Homo sapiens: one gene and its partners. The protein of the gene in region 2 interacts with the protein of the main gene of each other region in a pairwise test. Each region holds a gene or a part of one and is shown on either strand. Other genes may lie near its edges.

Region 1 (3,500 bases), on a different chromosome or scaffold from region 2:
CTCCCACCACCTTAACCCCTGAACTTCGCCCCTGAGAAGACGGAGGAGGAGGAGGAGGAGGCCAGGTTGTATCCCCTGGTCTCCCAACGAGTAGGAAATGGAGTGGGCGGCAAAAGCCCCGACAACAGGGGGCTGGCACCCCCAAAAGGAAAGGAGCCCTGGGGAAGGGGAGCGCTAGGCCTGACTCCTGAAATAGCCTCACGCCAGGAGGAGAGGGCTTAGCTCACAGTGACTCAGGGCACAGCAGGCGTGGACATCAGCCCGGGACAGACTCTCCTGGCAAAACCCCCACTCATTCTTATTTCCCCTGCCCCGCCCCCACCCTTAGACCCCCACTGGGCACCAGCCCAGGGTTGGGGGGGGCCAAGGCTGGTGTATGAAGCCAGCGGGGCTCCAGTTTGCTGGACTGGCGGGAAGGTGGTGATTGATTAATAAAAAATAATTGGGGCCGCCTGTAATCCCAGCACTTTGGGAGGTCGAGGCAGGCGGATCACGAGGTCAGGAGTTCGAGACCAACCTGACCAACATGGTGAAACCCTGTCTCTACTAAAAATACAAAAATTAGACAGGCGTGGTGATGCGCGCCTGTAATCCCAGCAATTCGGGAAGCTGAGGCATGAGAATCGCTTGAACCCCAGAGATGGAAGGTTGCAGTGAGCCAAGATCACGCCACTGCACTCCAGGCGACAGAGCAAGACTCTATCTCAAAAAACAAAGATAAAAAAGAGAGAATTGCATTTTCCAGCCCAGAATAGGGTCCCAAGGGGGTTCCTTGTGTGTTCTTTCCCAGGTTGAGGATGGGGGAGTGTGTCTGCCATGCGGTAGGAATGGAGGCTTCTCTGGGGTTCACAGAGCAAAGAGAGGTCCACCTGGGGGTCCTCCATGAGGGCGGGCTGCTCTCAGAGCAGAGAGACCCCCCCTGGGAAAGGACCCTCTTCTTTCTCCCTGAAGGCAGGTGTCCAGGCCACGGAGGACAGGAGGAGGGTGGAGAGGAGAGAGGGCTTCCCCTCCCAGGACCTGCCTGCCTGCCTGCCGGGCCCCCACACCCACTGCCCTTCAGTCATTCTGCCCCGTCCCCCCGTCACAGAAACACTCTGGTCACTCAGCCACCTGCAGCCCACCCCCCACACCCACCAGCTCCAGACCACACCCACACCTCCCACCACCCCTACCTCCAAGGCGCCCCTCAGGCCTGGGCCTCACCCCTCCAGAGCCTCTTGCAGAAAACAAACCCTTGGGTGACCCCTTCTGGAGGTGGATGTCTGGGCCAAGAGCCTCCTTGGGTCACACTCAGCAGGCAACCCAGGCTGGCTGTCCCTCCCAGGGACCCCCCTGCCTCCACCCCAAGCTGGCTAGAGAAGGAGCCTGGGCTCAGGAGGGGAGAGGTGGGAAGGCAGACCCAGGCTTCTGGGCACTTGGCCCAGCTGGACCTTATGCAGATGGACAGCCTCCTTCTGAAGCCCAGAGCCTAGGCAGGAGCTGAGGCCACACCCCCGACTCCCAGCTGCAGGAGCTGGTTCAGGAATTAAGAATAGGGCACAGAATGACCTTGGTATCACTTCACCTCCCCCAGCCCAGCCAGCAAAGCCCCAGGCCCGGTCCAGGTCATCCTCGGCCACCCCCAACTGCAGCTGCCCTCCACAGGAGCCAGGGACAGGACAGGGTCGCGGCTCCATGAGGCTTGCTCCAACCTGGCCAGGTGGGAATCCTGCCCCACCTCTTGCTGACATGGGGCTGGGGTGGGGTGGAACCCTGTCCGCCCTCTACCTCAGCTCTGCTCCATCCAGCACACAGGGCCCCCCCGGACACCACTGCAGGTCTGAGCACACCTGACCCCACCTCCGCAAAAGTTAGGGAAGCCTCTGCTGCCGGAGGCGCGGGAAAGCCAGTGTCTCCCGCGAACACTGATGGCCCACGGCCCTGCTCAGTGTCCAGGATTCCCTTCCGCAGCGCCTCCCGGCGACTGGGGGACCTTGGCGGCAGCCGGCTCAAACCCTCGGAAGTGAGTCCCTGGGCCCGACAGGTCGCCTGCCTGGAGGGGCGGGGCCGAGGCAAGGATAACGGCTGCACCGAGGAGGGAGCGGGCGCAGAGGAGGCACCGGGGCCCCGCGCAAAACTGGCCACGACCCGGACTCGAACCCCGACCCTAGGAGAGGCGCAGTGCCCGGGTGGCCCTGTCCGGCGCGCACGTGTGCAACGTGTCCCGTCTCATCAAGTGAGGAGAGGAGAGGAGAGGAGAGGGGACCAGGGCGTGGGGCAGCCGCTCTGAGTGCAGGGGGCGGACCCCGCGATGGTGCAAACCTTCCCCACCCGCCCAGTCCAGGCTCCTAGCCGGAGCAGCGGTCTTGGGTCCTCCCGGGACCATCCCCACAACCGCACCCAACGCCTGGCCGGGGCAGCGACTCCGACTCCCCAGACCCCGCGACCCGCCGCGGGAGGGACCCCGGGTCTTTCCCGGGCCCCCACCCCGGCCCCCGGACTCACCCAGAAGAGCAGGTTGAAGGCGAACATGAGGTACTTGACGGCCTGGAGGCAGGCGCGCGCCATGCCGCAGCGCTTCAGTTCTAGGAGGAAGATGAAGGAGAGGTCCAGGTAGAAAACCACGTACTTGTTGCCCTTGGGCGACGTGTAGCGCGCCTGGGCCGCCTTGGGGCCGGGGTTCGCGTGCAGGCCGAAGAAGGAGCCCCCGGCGTCCCCGCCGCCCGCGCGCCCGTATAGGCTGCTGTAGCGCCGGAAGGGGCCGCCGCGCGCGAAGTCCGGCTCCTTGCCCTCCGGAGAGGGGCTGCGCCGGTACGTGGACTCGTCCGTGCTGGAGCGGCGCATCGCGCCCGGGTGTGCCGGGGCCGCCGCTCAGCGCCCCGCACCCGCCGCCCCGGAACGCCCCATCCCGCCGGCCGGCGCCTGCTCCGGCCCCGCTCCTGCTCCCGCTCTGGCCCCCGCGGTGGCAGCGGGTCGCGCGGATCCGCTCGGACCCCGGCGGCGGAACCCAAACATCTGCCCGGCCCGCGCGCTGCGGCCCCCGCGCCCCCGACCCCGCGCGCCCCGCCCCGCGCCCTCCCGGCCAATCCCCGGCGGCTCCGCCCCCGCGCGGACCCCTCCCCTCCTCGCCGCACCGCCCGGCAAACCCCAGCGCTCCGCCTGGGCGGACCAATCGCAGCCCCCGGCAACGCACCAGCCGCGACCCCGGCCCCTTCGCCCGCGCCGGCGCCCCAGCCCCCCCACCTTCGCGCGCGGGAGGAAGATGCTCGCGAAGGGCGCCTGAGGGGACTGGAGGCCGGGGCCGGGGCCTGGGGATGAAACCTGGGCAGCTCTTAGCCCGCGACCGACACCCCCAGCCCTTCCCCCCACGGTACCTCGCCCGGACTCTGGCCCCGGGCCGGGCTTGGAGACCTCCAACCACGAGAACGATACTCAAAGCACTACGCAAATGGAGGGTGACCCCGTTGCTGTCTGGTGGCAACTTGAAGCGGCTCCGCCCCGGGCGCCCTTGGGGAAGCCCT
Region 2 (2,601 bases):
GCGTGGTCGTGTGTGCCTGTAATCCCAGCTACTCAGGAGACTGAGGCAGGAGAATTGCTTCAACCCAGGAGGTGGAGGTTGGAGTGAGCCGAGATCGCACTACTGCACTCTTGGTCTGTCTACCTCAACCCCAACTCTGCATGCTCTGAGCAGCCAGCTCCACCCAGCACTCACCATCCCACCCACTTTCGTCTCTCCTGCTTCAACATCTCCCTCATTCTGTTGTGTCTCCTGTAGTTGCATTTGTTGCAGTTCACTTGAGCTGAGCCCCGAGGCCCTTCTACCTCTAGTACTGCCTGTCCAGGACAGGCACAAGCATCCAGGCCTGAACGGGATGGATATGGCCCTAGAAAACAGAAAACAGGATTCCAGTCCCAGCTAAACTGGGTATGGCAAGACAAGGACCTGGGTTCCCATGTGCTCATGCTGAGAACTTGAGAAGGGACAGGAATTCTGCAGATCAACACAGCTTCATAAAGGCCAGCCAGGGGCTACCACCATTTTGCAGTGAGAATAATGTTTATTGAGAATGGCTCATTACAAACAAAATATATATAAAATCTCTGCAATGCAAAAGATCCCTTTCATCCCCGTGGCTAGAATGAACAAAGCCCAACTGTCCCACATGGCTTCAGGTGCTGTGCTGGTCCCCAGCATGTGAACAGGCTGGGCAGCTGTCGGTGTCATGTGCTGTGGGCAAAAGTCCCTGATGTCCAGGCTCTCTGGCTCCATTTTCATGACTTGTGCAAGAATGCAACACAGTGTGTCTTACATCCTGCCTCTGTGACCCTCCCTAGGCAGATGAGTCTTGAGAATGGGCAGCTTTCTCATTCATCTTTCAGGAAGGTGACCTTTAACTTGTGGCATGCCCTGAGAAGCCATCCTCTGGGACCAGAGACTGAGTGTTTCTAAACATTTTGGCTGGACTGAGGTGCTGTTACCACCCTCCATGAAGGCCACTCCCTAGTGACAGCCCTAACAGCATGTGCACTGTCTAAATCACATCCCACCATCCTGAAAACTTCATTTCCTCCCACTGGTTTCCTTCATACAGCTATTCTAACAATTTTACCAGAACACCACCTGAAGATGCCCACACCCCACAGCTGCTGTGCATGGGTACTCCTGGGCCACCTGGCATTAAGGCAATGGAGATGAGACCAGTCTAGAGCCAACACCGGTCTCTGAAACCCAGAAGGGCTGCCCAACTAACAGCACCTCCCTCTTGGCCAAAGGCTTTGTCTAGGGTTGAGAAGCAATTTGGCTGGGTGGTCTCACTGCCCTCCTAAACAGAGCCCACCTCTGCCCCCAGAGTCATCTGTGCTCCAAAGCAATGGGCGGGGGCACAGCTGCCACCATGCCATGCCTTGGGCATTGGAAGAGCAGGACCCAGGAGTGCAGGGATGGTATCACTGTTGCCCCTTTGAAAATGACCCATTTCCCACTTTGGGAGGCCGAGGCAGGTGGATCACCTGAGCTCAGGGGTTCGAGACCAGCCTGGCCAACATGGCGAAGCCTGGTCTCTACTAAAAATACAAAAAAATTAGCCGGGCATGGTGGCATGTGCCTGTAGTCCCAGCTAGTGGGGGGCTGAGGCAGGAGGATCGCTTGAACCCAGGAGGCGGAGGTTGTAGTAAGCCAAGATCGTGCCACTGCACTCCAGTCTGGGCAACAGAGTGAGTCTCCGTCTCAAAAAAAAAAAAAAAAATCCATTTCCTTTAGTTTTTTAGGTGCAGACTGGGGTTCAAGACCCAGCTCCACCACTGTCCTGAGCAGACTCCCAAGACTGGGCCAGCTGCCTCGTCAGCTGCCTCGTCTGAGAGGTGAAGGGGCAGGTACTTAAACCACTGGCCAAGTCCCTTTCTCTGAAAAAGAACTTGAGCTGGCTAACTGCCCTGTGCAGAGGTGTTAGTGGTTCCAAAGTACCTTCACTCTTGCTATTACTGTTTTACTTGAAGGTGATTACCCCTCAAAAATGAAAACTTAAATCTCAAAGAAACAACCCCTGACCCCAACCTCCCCAAAAAAGAGGAAGGAAAGAGCTCTATGCTACTTGCTGTGTTGTAAGATCCTGGGCAGGAACCCCTCTTCTCCATCAAGATAGACAAGACCCAGTATCCTGTGCAATCTGGTGTGAAGACCAGGTTGGGTGGGCAGCTGCAGGCTGCCCCAGCCCGTTGCTTTGGAGCACAGGCCTTAGCAGCCAACCTTAAAGGACTAGGGGCTCCCCACACTCAAGAGGGCAGACCCTGCTGTCAGGATTTTGGCTGGTGTCAGGAGGCCTCCTGGGTGCAGGGATCCCTCTGGGGCTAGGGCAGCTGTTTATTCCCAGAGCACTGCTGCCAGCCACGAGGCCTACCAGTGGGATCTAGGCCCGAGAGCCCTCCATCTGACAGAGCTGGAGGACCTGGAGGGCTGTGGGGGCTTTAAGAGTCTCCAGCGGCCAGGGCTCTGCATGGCAGGGCAGCTGTGAGGTGTGTCTATGCTGGGTGGCAGGGGTCAGATGCCCTGTAATGAGCCACAGAAACTTGGGCCCATGGGTAGGCAGGTGGTGGTGGTATCATCAACCACTGGGCACAGGGGCATATGCAGCACTTCCAG
Region 3 (3,500 bases), on a different chromosome or scaffold from region 2:
TTATGTAGTACTTATAATTTTAACTGTTTCAGAATCACTTTTGTTTTAGTAAGAATTCAAATGAGCTTCAAAAGAATAAATCAAGTTAAAATAGTTCAAGCAAATATTGGGGTGAATGTATGGTTTTTAAGACATATAGACAGATATACAGAAAGGCAGAGATAAGACATAGAAATTCATGTAGGACTGTGTGCACACATACGTTTCCTTGCAGCACCTGCTGAAAGAGCCTAGAAGTAATAATGCCCCCAGCCCCCACCCCACATTCCCGGTATTGGTGAACACACCTAGCACCCAGATCTTGGTTTCTGAAACCATTCTCCACTGAAAGAAACTAGGGCTCTGATATCTGGATATTTGTCTCCTCCAAATCTCATGTTGAAATGTGACCCCCACAATGTTGGAGGTGGGGCCTAGTGGGAGGTATTTGGGTCACAGGGGTGGATCCCTCATGAATGGTTTGGTGCCATCCCCTTGGGGATAAGTGAGTGTATTAGTTCACGCTACAGCTGGTTGCTTAAAAGAGCCTGGCACCTCCTCCCTTCTCTCTTTTGCTTCCTCTCTTGCCATGTGATACACCTGCTCCCCTTCGTCTTCTGCCACAAGTAAAAGCTTCCTGAGGCCTTGCCAGAAGCTGAGCAGATACTGGTGCCATGCTTCTTGCACAGCCTGCAGAACCATGAGTCAAAGAAACCTCTTTTCTTTACAAATTACCAAGTCTCAGATATTCCTTTATAACAATGCAAAACAGACTAACACAGGCTCCTGGAAGGAATAACTGACTCCATTCCTAGGGCAGGGAAAATACAAGATAAGTCTGAAACATTTTCTTGAGCAAAAAGTAAAGAAATGTTTAAAGGATGGAGGAAACTTCTCAAAAGAACACAGAAACTGGCTTGACAGAGTTCTCACTGGCCAAGTCCACAGCAATTTCAGGATCAAAAAATAATGACAGGGCCCAGCATGGTGGCTCATGCCTATAATCTAGCACTGTGGGAGGCAGAGCAGGGAGGATGGCTTGAGGTCAGGAGTTCAAGACCAGCCTGGACAACACAGTGAGACACTGTCTTTACAAAAAACTTAAAAAATAAAAAAATTAGCTGGGCATGGTGGCATGGGCCTGTGGTCCTAGCTACTTAGGAAGCTGAGGTGGGAGGATTACTTGAGCCCAGGAGTTCAAGGTTACAGTGAGCTATGATCATGCCACTGCACTCTAGTCTGGGTAACAGGAGATCCTGTCTCTAAAATAAATAAATAAATAAATAAATAAATAATAGTAACAATTTGAAACAGGACTCTATGAGCTTGTACCAATAAAAATTAATAAATAGGAAGAGAAGGAAAAGCTTGACAACCAATACAATGCCTACTACTAAATTTAGAAGACATGATGGAATTTTTAAAAATCACCATTTGATAACTATCATAGTATTAACTGATTCAGATAAAAATCATCAATAAATGCCTGAAAATGTTAAAGGGGTAAAAGTTTGATGGAAAAAGAATACTTACATAGTACTGAAGTATCTCCCCACGAAGTAAGTATGCACTTCTTGCTTATAATTAACATTCTTAATTAAATTTACAAAAAAAAAATCTGGAAGTCACCTTTTCAACCACGTAGTAAGAGGTTAACATCATAATAATAGGACAAATCAATGTCATGTGCTGCCTGATATGATATGGAGAGAAAAGCTGAGTGTCCCTTCTGTGATATTCCTGCCAAAAATGCATGTCAAGAGAAAATATTAAAAACCCAAATCAAAGGAGATTTCTACAAAGTAACTGGCCTATTCTCTTCAAAAAATATCAAGCTCATGAAAGATAAGATGTGAGGAATTGTTCCAGATTGGAGAAGACTAGAGAGATATAACTACATGTAGCACATGATTTTGGATGTATGAAAGACATAATAAGATAATCAGCAAAATTTGAATGGGGCCTGTGGATTAAATGGTAATACTGGATCAATTTTAATTTCCTGATTTTGATGGCTGTACTGTGATTCTACGGGAAAGCGTCCTTGTACTTACAATATACAGACCAAAGTATTAAGGGCAGTTAATGAAGTATCATGTCTGCATCTTATCCTTAAATGTTTCAGAGTGTTAAAAAATGAGGGAATCTGCTAAAGAGTATATTGGCTCTCTGTGTACTATTTCTGTAATTTTTATGTAAATTTACAATTACTTGAAAATAAAATGTTATGAACATATAGACCTTACCATATTCACTCCAGGAAAGATGACTTAAGTATAAGGTACTTACCTACTTTAATACATTGGAACCTTCTTATAAAACAATATTTAATATGAGTCTAACCTGGGCCTCATCCCATAGAGTTTAGGTACTAAAATTCAGATTTCTCCCACTTTTCAACTGGTTCACACTTTGTCATGTTCCTAACAGAGAACTTAAACTGCTTCTAGCCATTCCCTTGACAGTCTCCTCCAATTGCCACATAAACCAAAAGAAGAGGTCACAAACAGTAACCTTGCTATCTCAAGAGTACTGCTAAAAAGATCTCACCCTAAGCAGTTTCACCTTTGGGGAACAAAATGGTTCCCCAAAAGTTTCTAAGGACAGCGAAGGCAAAGCAGCTCTATAGTTGACATTTTTTAAATTGTATTTTGCCATAAAAAGTCTCCAAACTTCAGAAGTGTTTAAAACACTTGAAGTTAACATGAAACAGTGAGAAAAACACTGAATGGGAATCAAACTACAATCTTAACTTCCATCACCGAACTGGTTATTAATAGAAATGACACCAATCACTCCTGTCTATTTCCCAATTTGCAAATGAAGCTTAATAACCTACCAAGGTTATCTTCTAAAAAAAAGCAGTATGTGAAGTACTTCAAGCTTCTTAGAGGGAAATGAAAAATGAAATGAAGACATAATAGAACTGTAGTAACATTTGGAAAATAAAGTCTTCCACACAGCCAAGGATCTGCCGTATTAAATATATTTTTAAATTTTGGATGGAAATTTTTCTAAACAATATTACCCCCTTCACCACATTAAACATGATATACTGATTATTTAGCCATTTCTTCATCACTTAGGATCATCGTTATAAATGTGAATTATTGAACTATGGATATACAAGAATGTCCTAAGCATCTAACCAAGATCCAGTTACCTGAGATTATCCAGTCCCAGATAATGAGAAATGCCATATTACGGATGTATATATAACAGCTTTATATGGCAATAGGGCAAATAACCTCTCATTCATTCTAACATCTATGCAGTGCCTACTATGTGCCAGGCACTGTTCCAGACACTGAAGATGGGTACTGACTTCGATTGAGTTGAGAGAGACAGACATATAAGAAACAAGCACACGGGGTATTAGGATTGTTGTGTGTTAGTACCATGGACCTGTGCCACTGAGGCACAAAGGAAGTGATTCCCTGGTGAGATTGCAGCAAAGTAAAGAACATTAGTGCACTCCAACACCACCAGTAGTACCTCCTCACCTTCTCACTACAGCCTGA
Region 4 (3,122 bases), on a different chromosome or scaffold from region 2:
CAGTCAAATGACTCGCTCATGGTGGCAAGGGGAGAGAACCCTGTTAGGAGCACAAGGTGGAACTGGGGTCACACAGAGAGGCTGTGGCTTGGCTCCTGGCAAAGAGGCCTCTGCATTCAAAACACAGCCAAGAGACCCGGCATAGGAAATGCCAGTTCAGAGTAGGTGGGGATGGGGAAGGGGTGCTTCTGGGAAACCAGGAATCCCACATGTTTCTTTCTGTATTTAACTCGGGGTAGGAAGAGGTCAGGAAAAAAACCAGGAAGCAGAAGTTGTTTTCTTATCTAGGCCCTAGCAGATCTAGGGGGAGGGGGCTTTTCCTGGGTCAGTGACTCATTTCCTGTCCCAGCCAGCGTCTAGCCTCCACTGTCCCGACTGTCCCCAGCGTGGGAGAAGCAGGGGCAGGGAGCCACCCCACTCTACTCCTTATGAGCAGTACTCCCACCCTCTCCTGACTCCCAGGAAGGGACTTTAGGAATATGGATAAAGGAACCCTTAACCAGAGCTCTGGAGTACAGAACTTAGAGACGGGAATGGGCTGTGCCTGCCCCTCCTGATCCAGAAAACAGTGGAATGCTAGAGAGGTGCTGGACTAATGAATGGTAGAAGAGGCCAGTGTGAGAGGTTGGGCCTTCCCTCCCGGGGAATCAGCCAAGCAATGGGAACTTCAGAGGCTCAGCTTAGGTTCAAGCAGGAAGGAAATCCTGCAAGCTGGACACAGCCAGTCTTCCCTAGCTAGACCCTCTGCCCTCATCCCCCCACCCCCGCTGTGTCACACCAGCTTGGACAGCCTTGGCCTGTAACATCTGCAGCAGCTGTGGCGGCACAGATGGCCAGATGTCAGGTTTTGCCAGCAATGGGGAGAAAAAAGGAAAATGAAGTGTCGGGGGAGGCAGAGGGGAACTGGAGACAGACTGGGAGTGCAGTGTACCCCCTGCCACCTCCTGCTAACATCTGGCAAAACCCCAGGATCTTTCCATCCCCTGGGGTCATGATTTCCCTCCTACTGCCTCTGGGAGAGAAGGTCTCTCCCACCTTTTCCGATTTCTCAGGGTTTGGGACTAGGGAGCTGAAAGGAGAGAGAGCAAGAGCCACTGAAGACATTTTCTCCCCAATCAGGCCCCATCTTGGGTGGGGAGTAGGACAAGGGGGAGCCCTGAGAGCTGCTGCTGGAGACACCCAGCCCCCGACCAAACCTCAGACACTTTCCATTTTCTCAGGAACAAAGCATGTTTGTGGGATGAGGTCATCCACACAGCTGCCTCTGGAACAGGAGCCTAGGGAGTGGAGCGGTAGGGAAGTGGGGTTCCCAGACCTTTCTGCTGCCCCGGATTCCAGTCTCTAGCCCCAAAGTCAGAGCTCCCACCCCTGCTCTCCTCCATCATGAAGGCTGCTCTCTAAGGGCTGGGATCCTGGGGTAGTGGAGAGGAACCACCAGGACCCATAGGAAGGAGATGTTCTCACAGCTGTGGATGAGCCCGGGGAAGTTACAGGGACACACAAAGGAATCCACCAACCCACTCTCCCACAAGGCTCCAGTGCTGGCAGTCGCCAGGGCCTGCCCTGGCTCAAGCTGAAGGAGAAGTCCTCCTTTTCTCATCCACCCCCAGTGCGAAATTCTTGACAACAAGCGCTGCTCTGGCTTGAAGTTCAGACTCCAGGCACCAGCAGATGCCCCCAGCTTGGAGGCCTGACTCTCCATACATCAAGCCTCTGCGCAATGGGAGAACAGCCAGCTTGCGCTCCAGGCCAGGGCATGAGGCCACCAGGGGCCAGGGTCTTTAGAGCTGGAACTCCTGGGCTGGGGGCTATGGTGTAGAGAAGATACTCCTCTTTCTCAGCCCCCTTCCTGCCACTCAGGCCCAGGTTTCCTCTGGCCCAACATCTGAGGATTGCCTGGGCTGTCAGCCACGGGGCAGCAGGGGGCCACACAGGTGGAATGCGTCCACAGGGGGTGCCTGGGCCTCTTCCTTCCTTCTTGGCTTGGCCCACTGCGGCTGCCACCTTCTCAGGCCCAGGCTAGACTTGGGTCCACCCCCTGAGAGACAGTCAGCACTCCGAAACCAGGGCAACCCAAATAGGGTATGGGCATGGCTTCTATTTCCTTCCCAGAATCCCCCAATGCCCTAGTCTATCCAGCTGGGCTCTGGTGAGGACAGAGTAAAGGGCACCAACAAGGCCCACCTGTCTCTGCCCATACCCCTCTCCCTGCCCTTTTCCCTGGCAAGGCTGGGGACTGCGGGGACTGAAGGGAGCCAGCCTTGTATTCCTTCCTGACCGGCAGTGGGGCGGGGTTTGGGGGAGACTGCTCCTCTACAGATGGCTCACAACCCTGCACCTCCAACAATCTCCCCTCACAAGGCACCTCCCAGTGAACCTCCTGGAGCTCAGAATGACTGCGTAACTGGCTATGGTGTATGGAGCAGCTCAAGCTGTAAGGTTTGAATCCTGGCTCCTGCACTTACTGGCTGAGTGATCTTGGGCAAATCCCTAAGCCTGTTTTCCCATCTAATTAAATGAGATACTACCACTTCCTACCTCCTAAGTTTGTTGTCAGGCTTAAATGTGATGATACTTGTAAAGCACCTGGCAGATAATAAATACTCAGAAAATGGTAGCTATTAGTATTTTACTATTAGCGCCCTCACTCATACTGGGGCCAGATAGCAGTTTCACAGGCAGGTCTGGGTCAAGCAGCTGGACTGGAATTTTTTTTTTTTTTTTGAGACAGAGTCTCGCTCTGTCGCCCAGGCTGGGGTACAGTGGCGCAATCTCGGCTCACTGCAACCTCCACCTCCCGGGTTCAAGTGATTCTCCTCCCTCAGCCTCCCGAGTAGCTGGGACTACAGGCACCTGCTACCACGCCCGGCTAATTTTTTGTATTTTTAGTAGAGACGGGGTTTCACTGTGTTAGTCAGGATGGTCTCGAACTCCTGACCTCATGATCTCCCTGCCTCAGCCTCCCAAAGTGCTGGGATTACAGGCATGAACCACCACACCCTGCCTGGACTAGAATTTTTAAATAGAGATGGGGTCTCAATATGCTGCGCAGGCTGGTCTCAAACTCCTGGGCTCAAGCTATCCTCTTGCCTTGGGTTCCCAAAGTGCTGGGATTACAGGCA
Region 5 (2,542 bases), on a different chromosome or scaffold from region 2:
GCCAGTGCAGTCTGGAACTCCTAGGCTCAAGGAGATCCTCCACCTCAGCTGTCCAAGTAGCTAGGACTACAAGGACGTACCACCAGGCCCAAAAGATTCTATTTTTAAACATACCTTCTTTTATTCTCAACAAATGCACTATTTCAGATAAAAATATAAAAAGTACTATTTATCTGTAAAACGGTGGCCTTTAACCTACCTTGGATAGGATTTATAACTAATCTGCAAACACTAAGATTTGGGAATAATATTTATTTAATTGAATTTATAAAAATTAACATAAAAGGCTAAGACCTCTAAGAGCAGTAGTTGGGAATTAAAAGGACCCAGGAATATAGGTTAATGTCACATAATGTAGGAATATCACAATGGGATGCATTTGATAATTAGATTTTTTTTTTTTTTGAGACGGAGTCTCGCTCTGTCACCCAGGCTGGAGTGCAGTGGCACGATCTCGGCTCACTGCAAGCTCCTCCTCCTGGTTTCACGCCATTCTCCTGCCTCAGCCTCCCAAGTAGCTGGGACTACAGGCACCCGCCACCACGTCCGTCTAATTTTTTTTGCATTTTTAGTAGAGATGGGGGTTTCACTGCGCTAGCCAGGATGGTCTCAATCTCCTGACCTCGTGATCCGCCCGCCTTATCCTCCAAAAGTGCTGGCATTACATGCGTGAGCCACCGCGCCCAGCTGATTTATTTTTTTAAAAATATTAAGTATAGTCTTAAATCAGTAGAATTTCACAGTAAACTTTTCAAGTATTTGATTTTCGGCTTATGGTAACTAAGTGTAAACCATTGCTTTTAATGTTCTTTTCAATGATATGCAAAAAAATCACACTTGATTTAAGAACATTCGTTTAAATTTAAATTCTTCACAAAACATCAAAAATGAATTACCATTATATTATAAACATGATCAAAATAAATCTTAGACATGAAAAAAGAACATAATCTCCCAAAGTAGCACAAATCTCACCTCCTTCAGAGGCAAACATAGAGCAAAATTAACAAAAAGATATTAACAGAATTGACCTGTAATTATAACATGACATACAGAAAACTTTTTAACAGAGATGATCCCTAAGAAAATTACAGTTATGAAAGATAATGAGGTGCCTTAAAATTTCCGCTTGAAAATTTTGCAAAGGCTCATTGTTGGTCCATTTAATTACTCAGGAAGATTTGATCTTCACAGGAAGCAGCTTCTAATAGCAGCTCTGGAATACTAGCTGTGACTTCCACTTGGAGGGTGCTATAATAACAGTGCACAAGAAAAATATGTTATTAAACATATAGGCCATAGCTTCAACTCCTCAAGAAGTCCTTTTTCTGAATACTACCATCCTTTAAATATGCACTTTGACTGAGCTCCCTATACGTTTATTTATACACCTGGTCTATTACAGGAACAGAAAAGCTTTAGAGTTCACAGTGAGACCACACTTTGTAAATATAGTGACCCCCCATGCCCAAGATAAAGCAGACACACACACACACACACACACACACACAATAATAAGACTTACTGCTGCCTTCAAAGCTTGATCTAGATCTTCCAGTAGGTCTTCCTCATCCTCTAAGCCCACAGAAAGTCGAATCAGTGTGTCACTAATTCCAAGGACATCTCTGTCATTCTTAAGAACTGATGCATGAGTCATGATTGCCCTGAAAGAAGACATGAGCAAATTTTTGATCACTATATTGTGTCAGTGGAGGCATGTTTCTGTCTCATAAACTGCAATTACCCTCAACATTTTTCTGGTCCAAATATCAAATTTTGCATACCCCTATAATTCACAGGCAAAAAAAGAGAAAATTACGAAACTTATCTCTTCTAGCTATGATTTTAAATGAAAAGCAAGATTGTTTTTATCCTGTTTATACCATTGGTAAGATATGCTCAATCCAAATACTGAAAGTGTGTGTCAAGTACCCCCATGCAGTAGGGTAAGGCATAGCCTCCCCAATGTGTATATTTTAATACCTGCCTAAATGAAGTTTGGCCAGAAATCATGTACTCCATGACCAACCTACTGGATTGCTACTTATAAGAGGTCTCTTGGACCAAGAGCCTGTCATAATTAGTTTCCTCTGAATCAATCCAGAGCTAGACCTTCTGAGGCACATCGGAGAAAGATGACCAAGAATCACTAGTAGCAACCAGTAAGCATTCAGAATTCCACAATATAACTCCTGGCATAGAGGCCTGGAAGGATTTTTCAAACGATCTAGCAGCCCATTACCATCATCAACAGATGTAAAGGAAAACCACCCATAATATGTCAAGCACTGCAGTAAAAATTGGGAAACCAAGAAGAATGAGATATTTTCTTTAACCTAAATAACAAAGCAGGAGGTAAAAGCGATGACAATTCACAAAACAAAATAGTCTATATAAACAATGCCAAACAAGTATAGACAAAAAGACTGCCAAGTTCCAGGGAAGGAGAAATTTCTGTGAAGAATAATGGAGGAGAGGTTTAGCATCTTACTTAACCCCAGTATGTGTATTACAACCAACACTCTTCCTTTCCCTGCACACC
Region 6 (2,579 bases), on a different chromosome or scaffold from region 2:
GTCACAGAGGCATGTCAGGTCACGGGTGGATGCTAAGGCTCCTGCGTGGAGGGCTCCCTGAGTGGCCACTGGACAGCCAGGAAAGGTCCATTCTGTGGCAGGGCCGTAGGCTTGGGGGTGTGGCCAGGGACCCGAGGGATCTGCCAGCAGCCCTGGGTGGCAGTGATGGGGGCAGCAGTCAGAAGAGTTGGCCCAGAGGAGCCTGGGTCCCCCATGGGGTCTAGGTACAAGTGTGGAGAGCAGCTCCACAGCTGGCAGCAACGGAGGCTGAGGCTGGATTTCCACATGGGTCCACTTGGCTGCTGTGTGACCCCTGCAGACTTGAGCCACTCTGGGCCCTTTCTGCTGGATACCACAGGCCCCAGATCCCTCCCCATTCTGAAGTGAGACCTGAGGATTCCTCCATGACTCATGGCCCTCCCGCCACAGCTTTCCCTGGCTCCCAGCCCCACCCTCTCGGAGTGAGTCCCCAGTTTGGGCCACAGGAAGCCACACACCGCTTCCTTTTCCTTTTTCTTTTTTTTTTCTTTTTTTCCCTGTTTTTCCTCTTGGCCCCAGCCCTGAGTGGGAAATCATTCAACCACCCATCTTTTGGTCCATCTGTCCATCCACTATGTCAGCAGGTCCAGCCCCCAGCGCCTGGTCACATGACTGTCTCCCACTCTTCCTGTAGCAGGGCAGGTGGCCGCTCAGGCCCAGAGGCCTCCTCGTCCAGGCCTGAGCAGGAGCCGTTGAGGAACCCATCGTCCTTGGGAGCAGCCATGGCAGGTGGTGTGGTCTCGAGGGTCTCCAGGGCTGGGGTCCCTGGCTTGGCATGGCCAGGCAGCTGAGGGTGGCCGTTGGTGGTGGCAGTGGGCAGTAGGCGGGGGCTGAGGGGCAGGCCGAGTCCCACACGGGGGCCGACATTGGTCACACTTGTGTGGGACACCATGGGGCCGTAGCTATAGCTGCTGCTCCCGCTGCGTGCCTTTCGCTTGAAGTCCAGTGCCAGTGTCCAGCGGCTCCAAGATTTCTTGATCTCAGCTTGTACCTTGGGGCAGTAAGGGTGCGGCAGTCAGGTGTGTCTCCCAACCCCAGCGATGCCCCATCCCGGCCCCTGGACACCCAGCACGGAATGAAAATGGGAATAGGGGACTCCTGGGAAACTCCAAGGCCAAGTGAAATCCCATCCTCACAACAGGGTGTTTGGCTACAGGCAGCCGACACACCCAGAATCTACAAGGCTCAAATTGCCCCAAAGGTGGCTGAGTCCTCCAATCTGGGTCACAGATAATTGAACCATGGGGCTGGGAAGACACTTGGCTATGCCAGTGACTGAAGAGTCCCCACATCCTAGCACATCCTGAACCTGCATCATCTGGAAAGACTTCTCTGCTTTCAGAATGTCCTCAGGGGTGTTCTTGGAGGAACAAAGAAATAACAGGGTGGAAGAATGGAGAAATGAGCCTTGAGGAAGCCTCTGGGGTATCTGCCCCACCCTGCCCTATGCCAACACTGTCTCCTGCTTACCTCGCCATTGCAGAAACAGTATATGATTGCGACAAAAAATCCCTGTGAAGAGGGGTGTCTCGAATCAGGCCTGCCCCCGGAACCCCTCCCACCCTCAGCCAGGCCCGGGCCAGCACTGCGCACCTGGAAGGAGTTGAAGAGCATCTCATAGTGCATCTGGACTTGCCAGAGCGTCCCTGAGACCTCGGTGTATGGTGTGGCCATGAAGACAATGTAGTGGACGCCAAAGAGGGGCATGAGCACCAGCGTGGATTTGAGCAGCTTCCTGGGCCAGCGGGGCAGGTAGGTCAGGGCCAAGCCACTTCCCCTTCAACAAGCATTGTGCCACCCCCCACCCTGCGAGCCCCAGGCTCCGGAAGCTCAAAGGGGCCCAGGGCTCCAGTCACCATGGGAGGACAACCCAGTTCACCTGCATGGCTGCTGTCCTGGCTAAGTGCTAATAGGGCCCGTTGGTTCTCAGCGGTGTCCCGGAGCGGACTTCAAATGACAGTCCCCCTGTCCCTGGGCCCTTCGCACCTGTGGAGCCCTCAGCTGGCAAGCACTCCCCTCCACGGTCGAACCTCACTATCCCACAGTCCGCTCCTCAGGTTTCAGCTGAGCTGCAGCCTTCCCGGGGCCACTCACCGCCTACCTGTTCCTCAGACCCCCTGCAACCAACTCTTTGAGGAGAGGTTCAAGTTCGTTGCACACTCACAGACTCCAGCTCTAGTGCAGGGCCTGGTACAAGTGGGCAGGCTGGCTTTGGGGTGCCCTAGGGCCTCCCATCACTGCTGGGCAGGCCAGGTGGGTGAGGACAGCCAGGGAGTCAGACGCTGGGTCCTTTCCCTTGCCCCAGGATCATTCATGGGGCCACTGTCTTTCCTGGGGTACATGGTACCAGGACTCAGGGACCCCTGAGGAGCCAGGGCATGGCAGGCATGGTGGGCTCACCGGTACTGCTGCCGTGTGTCACACCGGCCGGCGTTGGTCTCCCGCAGCTTGGTGGCGAGCACCCGGACGATATTGATGAAGAGGATGAAGTTGAGCTGTGGGAGTGAGGGGGCTGCGTCTGGAGGCTGCACCCTAGTGGG
Region 7 (3,005 bases), on a different chromosome or scaffold from region 2:
GGTCTCCATCTGTTGACCTCGTGATTCACCCGCCTCGGCCTCCCAAAGTGCTGGGATTACAGGCATGAGCCACCGCACCCGGCCCCCTTTTTGTGTTTATGGAGATCACTGCCCTTTCAATATTTAACTTTACTCAGTTCTTAATTTTCCTGTTGCCATTTGAATTATGGGCCCATTTCAATATTTAAGACAAAATGGAAAATTTACAGACACAGTTGTGGTAAGAACAGCAGCTTACAATAGAACTAAAGCCTCTTGTGTTATGATTATATACCTGTGCCTTTCTCTGTGGTCTTTCTTCAAGACCTTCCAGGAATGGAGACACATCATCATCATCATAGATTGTAAACTCCAAGTCTTTACCAACAATTCCAATGGAAACATTCTGAAGGGTAAAATATGGTAAAAGTAAAATAAGAGAATTTGGATGAAAAAATACATACGATAAAATATTGGGTGAAAAAAGCAGAATAAGAATTTATATAGCATTTGAATAAAACCTTAAAAACCACTTATGTGTAGGAGAAAAAAGAAGGAAACTAGTGGACCCTTGTCATTTGCAGATTTAATATTAATACTAACTTTTGATTATCATGAGTAACTCCAAAGATCTATGTTATCTAGAAACATTTTTTTAAAAAGATAATGCAGGCTATAAAGTCTTCACATTGATATTAAACAATAATTATCCAATCACCATAACAAAATGGCTTTATAAAACTGACTAATCTCACTTTATTAATGATCATTAACTTCAAGTAGGCCTTAGTGGTTCCTGGATCCCACTATACCCATTTCTACATCATTCATGCTCCCCTTCTTTTAGACACTTCTAACATTCTCCAAGCTCTTTGAAGCTGAAAACCTTGTTCCTATATTACTGCGAAAACAGAAGCAATTAGAAGAGAACTTTCACAAGTTCCCACTGTATCCACTCTTTCCTGTACCTATGTCCCTAGATTCTCTCCTTTCCCATTAAAACTTCCTAAGGCCAACCCTTCCACCTATGTACTATTAAAGGACATTGTTCTAACAATTTTCTCATTATTTTTCCTCATAAATGCTTCCCTAAATTTACTTGGATTACTCTCACAATCATGCAGCAAATGTGATGTAATTTCTTCCATCTTAAAAAACAAAACAATTTATTTCTCTCCTCTTCCAGTCACCACTCCATCTCAAAAAAAAAAAAAAAACCCAGATTGTAGGGGTAAATAGATAGTGGGGCTATGGGTAGAAATAGTTTTAAGGCTATTCAGGTAATTCATGTGAGAGATGATAGCGATTGGAGCAGAGTGACAGAGTGACCGTCAACAGAAATATCCTCCAAAAAGCTATCTGCAATTCCTCGTCTCCCATTCTCTCCTGATTCCACTATCAGGTTTTTGCCTTATTATTCCATTAAGCCTGTTTTGTCAGGTCCTCAGTGACAACTTCATTGCCCCTCCTCCTTGAAAGTTTATTCGTTTGCCTCCAAAGATGCCTCATTTTCCAAGTTTTCCTCCTACTTCTTTGACCACCTCTCTCAGTCTTTTTTGCCAACACCTAACTCATCTCCCAGTTGCTAAAGGTTAGTGTTCTTGGTCCAGTCCTCACAATGCTTGTCTAACTATTCAATTCCTTTAGGAATCTCTTCCAGTCCAGACTCTAAATGCCATTTCTATATAAAGACTTCAAAAATTTGAAATGTAGGTTGGACCACTCTCCATGGAACTCCACGTGTTGCTTATAACTGCTTACTCTGTACCGTCAATTAGACAAAAAGGCATTTCAAATTTTACATGTCCGCAACTGACTGCCTGACCTTCCTCCCCAACGCCTACTCTAAAACCTGTTCCTCCCACTATCTTCTTCACCTCAGTAAATCATAAATCTTTCATTCCAATTAATTAGGCCCAAAACCTTGGAGACATTCCCCCCTCACACCCTATAACAAATCTATTAGCAAACTTTTTTGGCTGTAATTTCAAAAGATATCCAAAATTGAACCACTACTCTTCATCTTTAACTCTGTCACTCTGCTGCAATCACTATCATCTCTCACATAATTACCTGAATAGCCTTAAAACTATTTCTACCCATAGCCCCACTATCTATCTACCCCTACAATCTGTTTTTTTTTTTTTTGAGATGGAGTTTTGCTTTGTCACCCAGGCTGGAGTGCATGCACCGCCACGCCCGGCTGATTTTTGTATTTTTAATAGAGACAGGGTTTCATCGTGTTGGCCAGGCTGGTCTCGAACTCCTGATCTCAAGTGATCCACTCACCTCAGCCTCCCAAAGTGTTGGGATTACAGGCGTGAGCCACTGCGGCTGGCCCACAAACCGGTTGTTTTTTTTTTTTTTTTTTTGAGACGGAGTCTCGCTCTGTCGCCCAGGCTGGACAGGCTGGAGTGCAGTGGCGCAATCTCAGCTCACTGCAAGCTCCACCTCCCAGGTTCACGCCATTCTCCTGCCTCAGCCTCCCGAGTAGCTGGGACTACAGGCGCCTGCCACCAAGCCCGGCTAATTTTTTGTATTTTTAGTAGAGATGGGGTTTCACCGTGTTAGCCAGGATAGTCTTGATCTCCTGACCTCGTGATCCACCTGCCTTGGTCTCCCAAAGTGCTGGGATTACAGGCGTGAGCCACCGCGCCCAGCCTCAATCTGTCGTTAAAATGCCAAACAGAGTGACTGTTTTAAAACCTAAACCAAATCATGGTATTCCTCTGCTCAAACTCTTAACAGCCCACCCAGAGTAAAATGCAGAGTAACCACAATGGCTTATGGGACCTCCATTACCTCTCTGATTTCTTCCCTTTTCCTCTTCCTCTCGATGATTGACCTCAACACTACTGGCCTCCTTGCCTTAAATACTAGGGCCTTTGCATTTGTATTTCCTAGAATAATTTTGCTCTAGATCTGCATAGCTCATACTCACTTACCTCCTTTATATCTTTTCCTCAAATTTCATTTTCTTGGTGAGAATATCCTCAACCACCTATTTTAAATTACACCTACCTACA

The links.
Region 1: the proteins of GUCD1 (region 2) and TSPAN4 interact in binary tests that used the Homo sapiens proteins (3 or more experiments, as listed by UniProt).
Region 3: the proteins of GUCD1 (region 2) and NDUFAF6 interact in binary tests that used the Homo sapiens proteins (3 or more experiments, as listed by UniProt).
Region 4: the proteins of GUCD1 (region 2) and FHL3 interact in binary tests that used the Homo sapiens proteins (3 or more experiments, as listed by UniProt).
Region 5: the proteins of GUCD1 (region 2) and CTH interact in binary tests that used the Homo sapiens proteins (3 or more experiments, as listed by UniProt).
Region 6: the proteins of GUCD1 (region 2) and PTH1R interact in binary tests that used the Homo sapiens proteins (3 or more experiments, as listed by UniProt).
Region 7: the proteins of GUCD1 (region 2) and PSMA1 interact in binary tests that used the Homo sapiens proteins (3 or more experiments, as listed by UniProt).

The regions. Positions count from the first base shown.
Region 1 is NC_000011.10:849,352-852,851, reverse strand, and holds part of TSPAN4 (tetraspanin-4), read right to left. Parts: intron 2,997-3,500; exon of another isoform or gene 2,824-2,996; coding exon of another isoform or gene 2,548-2,823; coding exon 2,485-2,547; intron 1-2,484. UniProt on the Homo sapiens protein: Structural component of specialized membrane microdomains known as tetraspanin-enriched microdomains (TERMs), which act as platforms for receptor clustering and signaling.
Region 2 is NC_000022.11:24,539,938-24,542,538, forward strand, and holds the end of GUCD1 (protein GUCD1), read right to left. Parts: 3' UTR 501-2,601; downstream 1-500.
Region 3 is NC_000008.11:95,027,989-95,031,488, reverse strand, and holds part of NDUFAF6 (NADH dehydrogenase (ubiquinone) complex I, assembly factor 6 isoform 1 precursor), read right to left. Parts: intron 1-3,500. UniProt on the Homo sapiens protein: Involved in the assembly of mitochondrial NADH:ubiquinone oxidoreductase complex (complex I) at early stages. May play a role in the biogenesis of complex I subunit MT-ND1.
Region 4 is NC_000001.11:37,999,393-38,002,514, forward strand, and holds part of FHL3 (four and a half LIM domains protein 3), read right to left. Parts: intron 41-3,122; 5' UTR 21-40; coding exon 1-20. UniProt on the Homo sapiens protein: Recruited by SOX15 to FOXK1 promoters where it acts as a transcriptional coactivator of FOXK1.
Region 5 is NC_000001.11:70,437,810-70,440,351, reverse strand, and holds the end of CTH (cystathionine gamma-lyase), read right to left. Parts: intron 1,665-2,542; coding exon 1,526-1,664; intron 1,252-1,525; coding exon 1,225-1,251; 3' UTR 501-1,224; downstream 1-500. UniProt on the Homo sapiens protein: Catalyzes the last step in the trans-sulfuration pathway from L-methionine to L-cysteine in a pyridoxal-5'-phosphate (PLP)-dependent manner, which consists on cleaving the L,L-cystathionine molecule into L-cysteine, ammonia and 2-oxobutanoate.
Region 6 is NC_000003.12:46,901,721-46,904,299, reverse strand, and holds the end of PTH1R (parathyroid hormone/parathyroid hormone-related peptide receptor precursor), read right to left. Parts: intron 2,535-2,579; coding exon 2,440-2,534; intron 1,775-2,439; coding exon 1,633-1,774; intron 1,552-1,632; coding exon 1,510-1,551; intron 1,031-1,509; coding exon 644-1,030; 3' UTR 501-643; downstream 1-500.
Region 7 is NC_000011.10:14,507,382-14,510,386, forward strand, and holds part of PSMA1 (proteasome subunit alpha type-1), read right to left. Parts: intron 386-3,005; coding exon 275-385; intron 1-274. UniProt on the Homo sapiens protein: Component of the 20S core proteasome complex involved in the proteolytic degradation of most intracellular proteins. This complex plays numerous essential roles within the cell by associating with different regulatory particles.